Regions from separate parts of the Homo sapiens genome. Here region 2 is linked to region 1. The links come from fine-mapping of genetic effects on plasma protein levels. Region 1 holds a variant in brackets. A gene starts in the other region. All regions are shown on their forward strands.

What was found. A credible set is the group of variants that fine-mapping cannot tell apart. PIP is the posterior inclusion probability: the model's chance that the variant is causal. The UK Biobank Pharma Proteomics Project read protein levels with antibody pairs (Olink). The fine-mapping took linkage between variants from a reference panel, not from the people measured, so its PIPs are less certain.
Region 2: CCL28 starts here. The variant in region 1 is the best candidate, but not a certain one, in a credible set for the plasma level of the CCL28 protein (UK Biobank, PIP 0.62).

Annotation. Positions count from the first base shown.
Region 1 is chr2:206,173,825-206,178,219 of GRCh38, forward strand. It overlaps CMKLR2 (chemerin chemokine-like receptor 2), which reads right to left. Exons shown (of 2, transcript NM_001389445.1): 2 at 1,492-3,451. The coding sequence starts at 3,423. The coding sequence ends at 2,356. Among named protein-coding and RNA genes, the nearest start is that of SNORA41, 14 kb to the left of the region's middle. The variant T/C (reference allele first, on the strand shown) is at 2,505.
Region 2 is chr5:43,410,523-43,414,917 of GRCh38, forward strand. It overlaps CCL28 (C-C motif chemokine ligand 28), which reads right to left and starts at 1,869. Exons shown (of 3, transcript NM_148672.3): 1 at 1,731-1,869. The coding sequence starts at 1,794.

The DNA of each region.
Region 1 (4,395 bases):
GTCTCGCTCTGTTGCCCAGGCTGGAGTGCAGTGGCTCAATCTCAGCTCACTGCAACCTCTACCTCCTGGGTTCAAGTGATTCTTCTGCCTCAGCCTCCTGAGTAGCTGGGATTACAGGCACATGCCACCACGCCCAGCTAATTTTTTGGATTTTTAGTAGAGATGGGGTTTCACCATGTTGGTCAGGCTGGTCTCGAATTCCTGACCTTGTGATCCACCCCTCCTCGGCCTCCCAAAGTGCTGGAATTACAAGTGTGAGCCACTGAACCCAGCCGCCCAGGCTTTTTTTTTTTTTTTTTTTTTTTTTTTTTTTTTTTGAGACAGTCTTACTCTGTTGCCCAGGCTAGAGTGCAGTGGCGCAATCTCGGTTCACTGCAACCTCCGCCTCCCAGGTTCAAGTGATTCTCTTGCCTCAGCCTCCCGAGTAGCTGGGACTACAGGTGCGTGCCACCACACCTGGCTAATTTTTGTATTTTTAGTAGAGACGGGGTTTCACCTTGTTGACCAGGCTGGTCTTGAACTCCTGACTTCAGGTGACCCGCCTATCTTGGCCTCCCAAAGTGCGGGGATTACAGGCATTAGCCACCGAGCCCAGCCTCAGCTCCCACTTACAAGTGAGAACATGCAGTATTTGGTTTTCTGTCCTGCACTAATTTACTTAGGATAATGGCCTCCAGTTCCATCCATGTTGCTGCAAAGGACACGATTTCATTCTTTTTTATGGCTGTGCAGTAGTCCATGATGTATATGTACCACACTTTGTTTATCCAATCTACCATTGATAGGTACCTGATACCCAGAATTTTCTAAAAGCATTTCTGTTTATAATGATACCGTAGAGGATTAAAGATTGGTGCAATTTTTTTTGACATTCTTTCCGTTGAGAGATGGGGATCTGTGTCTCTTCCCCTTGAACATGAGCTGGTCTATGCCTGCTTTGACCAATACAATACAATAGAAGTGATACTGTACCTGTGCCAGTCATAGCCTTTAACAGGACTAGAAATTTCCACCTTGGCCTCTTGGAGCCCTGAGTTGCCACATTAGAAGTCTGGCGACCCTGAAATGCCATGGTGGAATAGCTGTGTTGGGAGGGGAGAGGGAGGGAGGGAAGGGGATGTCTTAGGCAGCTTCCAGCTTCGATTTGCATCATCTCAGTCCAGCTGATGCTCCAGATATTGCAAAGCAGAGAGAGATGAACCTCTTTTCTGACTTCTTTGAATTCCTGACCCTCAGAATTGTGAGAATTATATCAAAAGTATAAACTGTTTTAAGAACTAGGTTTAGGAGGAGTTTATTAAGCATCATTAGTTAACTGGGTTTTTGGAGTGTGGCGACGGTATTTGTGGACACTGTCCCAGGAACATGAGCTGTCATATCCCCTCCTCTTCCACTTCCCATTGCAACCAATAAAGGCTGTTCCTACTATAAAAAACAGAGAGAGTGGGAGAAAGAAGAAAAAATCTCCCAAATCATTAACTAGAACAGATGTTTTAAGATAACCAACAATTACTTTAATTCATAAATGTATATACATAGATTACATAAAGAAATTAAGTACACATGTTGCATTTTAAAAATGTGTCTAGCAGGTTATTGTACAAAATTAAAATGAATTTAAGAATACATTTTAACATTTTTAAAATTAGTTAATCATATATTTATTTATCTATTTTATTTATTTATTTTTGAGACAGAGTTTTACTCTTGTTGCCCAGGCTGGAGTGCAATGGTGTGATGTTGGCTCACCACAACCTCTGCCTCCCAGGTTCAAGTGATTCTCCTGCTTCAGCCTCCCGAGTAGCTGGGTTTGCAGACATGCACCACCATGACCGGCTAATTTTGTATTTTTAGTAGAGACGGGGTTTCTCCATGTTGGTCAGGCTGGTCTCGAATTCCTGACCTCGGGTAATCCCCCCACCTTGGCCTCCCAAAGTGCTGGGATTACAGGTGTCAGCCACCGTGCCTGGCTAATCATATATTTAATATTAAGACTTAAGGCTTTAGAAAAGTTATTATTCAAAAAATAACTGATATTGCTTCAAAAGTGATTAATTCACCATGGTATAATTAACAAGAATGATGCATTTCATTTAAGTTGCAGAAAAAAATTATGCGGATCCTTCCTAAGTATTTTCAGTTTTTTAAAAAAAATTTATTGCCACATCACAAGGAGTCAAGAGGATCCTTCCTAAGTTTCATATCCACACAAAAATGTGATGCCTATATAGTGACCAGAAACAATAACTATGAAAGTGGAGTCGGCTCTCTATCTTGGAAACAATTTTAATCTGAAAGCATCAGTCAGAGGACCCACATAAAAAGCCATATACTGATTTGTGGAAAAGTAATAACTTATTGAGCTGTTTCCAGGAGACACAGATTCTTGGTTTCTGAGTTCCTGAGCTGTTCACTCACTGTGCCAGAACAGCTGACTTCCCACAGTGTGTACTTGAGTATCTCAGCAACTGAGGACCGGAAGCGAGCTTGGAACTTCTTACTAA[T/C]TAGGACATAAAGGATGGGGTTCAAGCAACTATTGAGGAATGCCAAACCAGTGGAGAGGGGGATTCCAGCCTGCATCACATGGTGGGAATAGCTATTGTGGTGAATGGTGAGCTCCCAAATGCTAAACAGGTGATAAGGAGTCCAGCAAACCACAAAGGCCACAACCACAACCAGAATTGTCCAGAAATGCCTACTGGAGATCAGGATGCTTCGCTTCTTCACCTTGAAGATGAGACACAAGTAGCAAATACTCATTGTTAGCAAAGGGAAGAGATAGCCAATGATAAATTTCACCCAAGTCAGAACATGGTGCCTGATCAAAGTGAGGTCAGGATCATGCTTCTGAAAATTGTTATAGCAAAGAGTATGATTATTGAACTCCACAGTGTCCCGGAAGTACAGGGCAGGACCGCCAATTAGAGAAGCCAAAAGCCAGATGAATATAATGACAATCAGAGAGTTCTTGAGGGTTCGATGCCGATGAGATAAGACAGGATGGATCAAGTGGATATAGTGGTCCAGGCTGATCACTGTCAGGAAAAAAACACTGGCAAACATGTTCAACTGGGCAGTGAAGGAATTGGCTTTGCACAGCCAGATGCCAAAGGGCCAGTGGAAATTCATGGCCACATAGGAGATGTACAGGGGCAGAAAGAGAAGAAAAATGAAATCCGCAATGGCTAGATTGAGGAACCACAGAGTGGTGACTGTCTTCTTCCACTTGAACCCCGTGAACCAAATGACGATGGCATTTCCTGGAATTCCCAGAACAAAAGCCAAACAATATAACACCAGGGAGACCCAGTGAACAACTCCCAGCTGGACTTTCTCCTCCAAATCAGACTCCAGAGAGTAATAGTCTAGGTCATAGGAATAGTTTTCAAATTCTTCAAATAATGTTTCCTCCAAATCTTCCATGACCTTGCTAAATGGAGAATGAAGAAATCTGTAGAAGCAAATTTAAAAAGAAAGAAAAAATTTTAAAAGAAAAATAAAAGTTCAGTGAATGATAAGGAACGTGAAGATAAAAATATTTCAGGTTATGGACCAGACATAGTATTATTTTTTCTTTTTTTTGAGACAGGGTCTCACTCTGTTGCCCAAGCTGGAGTGCAATGGCATGCTTTTGGCTCACTGCAGCCTTGACCTCCTAGGCTCAAGTGCCTCCTACCTCAGCCACCCCAATAACTAGGACCACAGGTGCTCATGACCATGCCCAGCTAATTTTTAAATTTTTTGTAGAGATGAGGTCTCACTATGTTGCCCAGGCTGGTCTTGAACTCCTGGGCTCAAGTGATCCTCCTACCTCAGCCTCCCAAAGTGCTGGGATTATAGGCATGAGCAACTATACCCAGCAAATATAGTATATTTTTTGATAGGACTTGTGGTTATACTCCATATGTTCAAGTCTTGGTGAGCCTCAGTTTCACTCTGATTATCATTCTCCCAGCATGAGAGTTCCTTTCTGTAAAGTATTTAGTACTTGCTAAATTAAAATGAATGACTCTACGGTTATAATTCTTCAGTTCGTAATGCTTGTAGGGCTGACTAGAGAGAATTCAACAAGCATTTATTAGATTCCTACTATGCATTATTATTTTATGGCAGATGCAAAAGAAAACGGATTAATACTTACAGAGTGATAGCTTCAAAATCTGTATTTCAGCCAGACACAGTGGCTCACACCTGTAATCCCAGCACTTTGGGAGGCTGAGACAGGGAGATTGCTTGAGACCAGCCTGGGAAATATAGCAAAAACCTGTCTCTACAAAAAATAAATTTTTAAAATAGCCAGATCTAGTGGCTCATGCTGTAGTCCCAACTACTCAGGAGGCCAAGGCAAGAGGATTGCATGAGCCCAGGAGTTTGAGGCTGCAGCGAGCTATGATC
Region 2 (4,395 bases), not on the chromosome of region 1:
TCACACACCTCTGCATTTTGCCGTTCCACCCCACCGTCTCTACCAGGACTCAGTCCCATGTGAAGGTGGGTCCTGGGTATGGCAGAGCCTTCCTCATTACCCTCTGCCTCCTCGACCTGCTGTTCCCTCCCTCCTTTCCTGTAGGAGAGCTGCCGCTGTGGGGACAGGTGGGAGTAGGTCAGGAAGCTGGATGGAGGTACACATTTCAAAGTTTTATGTAAAAAATTTGAGTTGGTGGAATTACCAGAACTAGGAGTGAAGCCTTAGCAGGTAGGCCTTTCAGAAATAGTGAAAATGAGTCCCCAAATCTCAATGGTGAATTTTTCTGAGAAATGTTACAGAAACATAAAGTGACAAATTTTTGTCTTTATATTGATAAGATAGATAGATTAGTAGAAATTGAGAAGAGATTGTCCAGGTTTTTTCTGTTGCTTATTTGTATAAGCCCAGTACATTGACGGACTATATTGGGAGTCCCTAAGCAAATGCCTGCAGGGACCAGGCAGTTAATACAGCAAACTTCAGAGGCTCATCTGCTTTAGCCAGTTCTTGCCATGGTATGGTGGAATCATTGTTGCCACATCTGATTTCTCAAGAGAAGCTTTAAAATCCAATTTGTATGTGTGTATGTATGAGTATGTACATGAGAAAGCTTTCAGTTTTAAAATGTTGGCTCAGATTTTTAAAAAGCAGACCAAAGACTTATATTCCACCTCTGCTCTAGACTTAGAGAATCTGTTCAGGATAAAGCTTAAAGAAAAGATGACAATGGAAAAGAGTCATTGGTCAAGTATTAAGTACTGACACTTAGGGTTTCCTGAATATAGTAGTGAGTGCTACTTTAGAAGAGATTCCCTCTAGTTCAAATGCAGTTACAATCTCCAAATACATGCTAGCAACTCACGATTTAAATTCTCTTTGACATAATTTGTATGGTTCAATCTCCCTCATCCTGCTTTTCTTCTTTTTCTTTCTTTCCTTTCCTTTCTTCCTTTCCTTCTCTTTCCCCTCCCCTCCCCTCTTTTTGTTTTTAACAGATGGGGTTTTACTATGTTGCCCAAGCTGGAGTGCAGTGGCAATTCAGAGTGCAGTGGCAATTCACAGTGTGATCATAGCTCACTGCAATCTTGAATTCCTGGCCTGAAGCTATCCTCCAGCCGTAGCCTCCCAAGTAGGTGGGAATACAGGCATGCACCACTGTGCTCAGCTCTGCCCTCCCTTTTTAAAGGTCAGACTGAAGTTTCAGTTTTCTGTATCCATAGAGCTGACTTTGCTCAGGAAATTTACAACTTACCTAATTTGAACGCAGCTGGCCAAGTCTGTATTTCCCTCCAGGAATGTGCACAGTTGTGTTCAGACCGTTTAGCAGGTTGGGGTGTGGAGGAAGACAGATGAATAGTAGGGGCTTTACTCCAGCCTCTAGCTGGGGATTTTCTAAGATACTGTCTTCAGAAAAGGAAACATAGCTCGAAGTTGTACCTACATGGAAGGACCTCATCCTCCAGGTGGCAAAAATTTGTAGTATGCCTGTTAGAATGAGGTTCCTTCCTGAAACTTCTGGGAGATCTAGAATTTAAAGCTATGTCATTCTCTTGTAGGTAATCAGAAATCAATTGGAAATTCCTGCTTGAAGAGATAGATATTCTTGCCCCACCTCAATCCTTCCAGCACAGATTTGGGAGATACCCCCCTTTCCAGTGAAGGCCTAAGTGTCCAGTGCCCCCACTCACCTTCTGAGGCATGTAGGGCCGCACAGACAGCCAAGGCCACGATGGCGAGTCCTCTCTGCTGCATTCCTGCCTGCCCTACTGGCACTGACAGCAACACAAGTGAGGCTGTTCGATCAGGAAATGAGGCTAAAGGTGTCCTTGGGCACAGAGAAAGTGCAGAGGAAAAGTAAGCCAGGTGGCCCCGCCCTGGGAGGTGTTCAGGGTATCTATTTCTCATGTTTCTTTCCTTAAGACCAGGCTCCTCCTCGACTTATTAAGCTCCTAACTTGTGTTCATCCTGCCTGGGGGTCAGGGGATGTCAATGGAGATCTGGCAGCTGGCAGGGTCACTGTGAGGTGGGGTGTGCATCAGAATCATTTGGGGAACATTAAAAAAAATCAATCTAAATGACTCTCCCCTTTCCCTGATTTGTAAACCAGAACTCCCAGGTAGGAGACCAGTCATTTGAATTTTGTAAAAGCTCTATAGGTGATTCTGATGGACACTTATGTTGAGACCCATTGCATAATCAGTTTTTAAGTAGCTTATGGAAACCATGAGTTTCTGGGGACAAGGGTGACAAGTCATAAAAAATGTATCTTTGTGGAAAGATATGGAAGTATTAAACCCCACTTTAGTCTTGGTTCACAGCCAAATTGTTTCCAGTGAAGCTTTTTACAATAGCTTATTTAGGAGAAAGACAGGAAGGGGGGCAATGCCTTGTAGAAAAGAGCCCAAGAGCAGGTGTGAAGAGGCATGAGCGCTAGTGCAGCTTTGCTGCCAATCAGCTTTGTGAATAAAAGCATGGGGTAGCATGAAGATAATTGGATTCTAATTGTTCCTCATCTACTAATAAGTTGTATAACCTCAGGCAACGTACTTAACTTTGCTGTAAATAACAAGTCAGACTAGATGACCTCCAAAGTCATGCCATGCTTCCTCTAGAACTGTGTTGTCCTATGTGGTAGCCGCTAGCCCACATGTGGCTCTTGAGCACTTGAAATATGAGTAGTCCAAACTCAGATGTACTATGGGTATAAAATTCACACTGGATTTCAAAGACTGGGTACAGAAAAAAATATAAAATATCTTGTTAATAATGTTTATACTGTTTATTGATTACATGATAGTATTTTGGACTTTTTGGGTTAAATAAAATATATTATTAAAATTAATTTCACCCATTTCTTTTTATGTTTTCAAATTACTGCTGTGGTTTGAATATTTTTTTCTTCTCCAAAGCTCATGTTGAAAATTAATCCCTAATAGTGCTGGGAGATAGGGCCTAATGGACAATGTTTAGGTTATGATGGCTCCACCCTCATGAATGGATGAATGCTACTATAAAAAGGGCTTGTGGGAATGGGTTGGTACCTTCTGCTCTTCTGCCAGGTGAGTACACAATGCTCCTTCTCTCCAAAAGATGCAGCAAAGTGGCATCATCTTGGAAATAGAAACTGAAATCACTGGAGCCTTGATCTTGGACTTCCCAGCCTCCATAATTGTAAGAGAATACATTTCTGTTATTTATAAATTGCTCAGTCTCGGGTTGTGGTGTTATGATATATATATTGGCTTTTATCCATGGTTCCTGGCTTATAACTCCCATAACCCTTGTTACAGTTTTTTTTTGTTGTTTGTTTGTTTGTTTTTTTTTTGAGACAGAGTCTCGCTTTGTTGCCCAGGCTGGAGTGAGTTTCACCATCTTGGCAAGATGCTGGTCTTGAACTCCTGACCTTGTGATCCACCCGCCTTGGCCTCCCAAAGTGCTGGGATTACAGACATGAGCCACTGTGCCCAGCCCAGTCTTTTTTTTATATTATAATGTTGGGGCACTTTAGGCTTCAGGAACAGGCCTCAGGAAACGGAATCTCTCTCTGACCTTCTGTTTTTCTTTCACCTGCCCAAGGCAGGACTCTAATCTGATTGTGGGTCATAAGATCCTCATTCCAGAAAGGGTTCTGTCCCATACTCTAGAGGAAGGAATGCTACACAGGCCAAGAAAAGCCTGAACAGGCAGGACTTGCTGGGTTTAGATTATGTGCTTTTTGTCTAATCACATTTCTACATGGTTGTTAATCATGCCTATGTAATGAAGCCTTTGTAAAACCCCAAAAGGGCAGAGTTTGGAGAGCTTCTGGATAGCTGAACATGTGGAGGTTCTTAGAGGGTGGCGTGCCCAGGGAAGGCATGGAAGCTCTGCATCCCTTCCCCCATACCTTGGCCTCAAGCGATCCTCCTGCCTTGGCCTCCCAAAGTGCTGGGATTACGGGCATGAGCCACTATGTCTGGCCTTCATCTGTATCTTCTGTACTGTCTCTTATAATAAACCGTTAAATGTAAGTATTTCCCTGAGTTCTGTGAGCCACTCCAGTGTTGCAGGAAGTCAGGAACCCCGAATGGAGGGACCAACCGGCTGAAGCCATGGCAGAAGAACATAAATTGTGAAGATTTCATGGACATTTATTAGTTCCCCAAATTAATACTTTTATAATTTCTTACGCCTGTCTTTACTGCAATCTCTGAACATAAATTGTGAAGATTTCATGGACCCTTATCACTTCCCCAATCAATATCCTTGTGATTTCCTATGCCTGTCTTTAATCTCTTAATCCCATCATCTTCATAAGCTGAGGAGGATATATGTCACCTCAGGACCCTGTGATGATTGCGTTAACTGCACAAA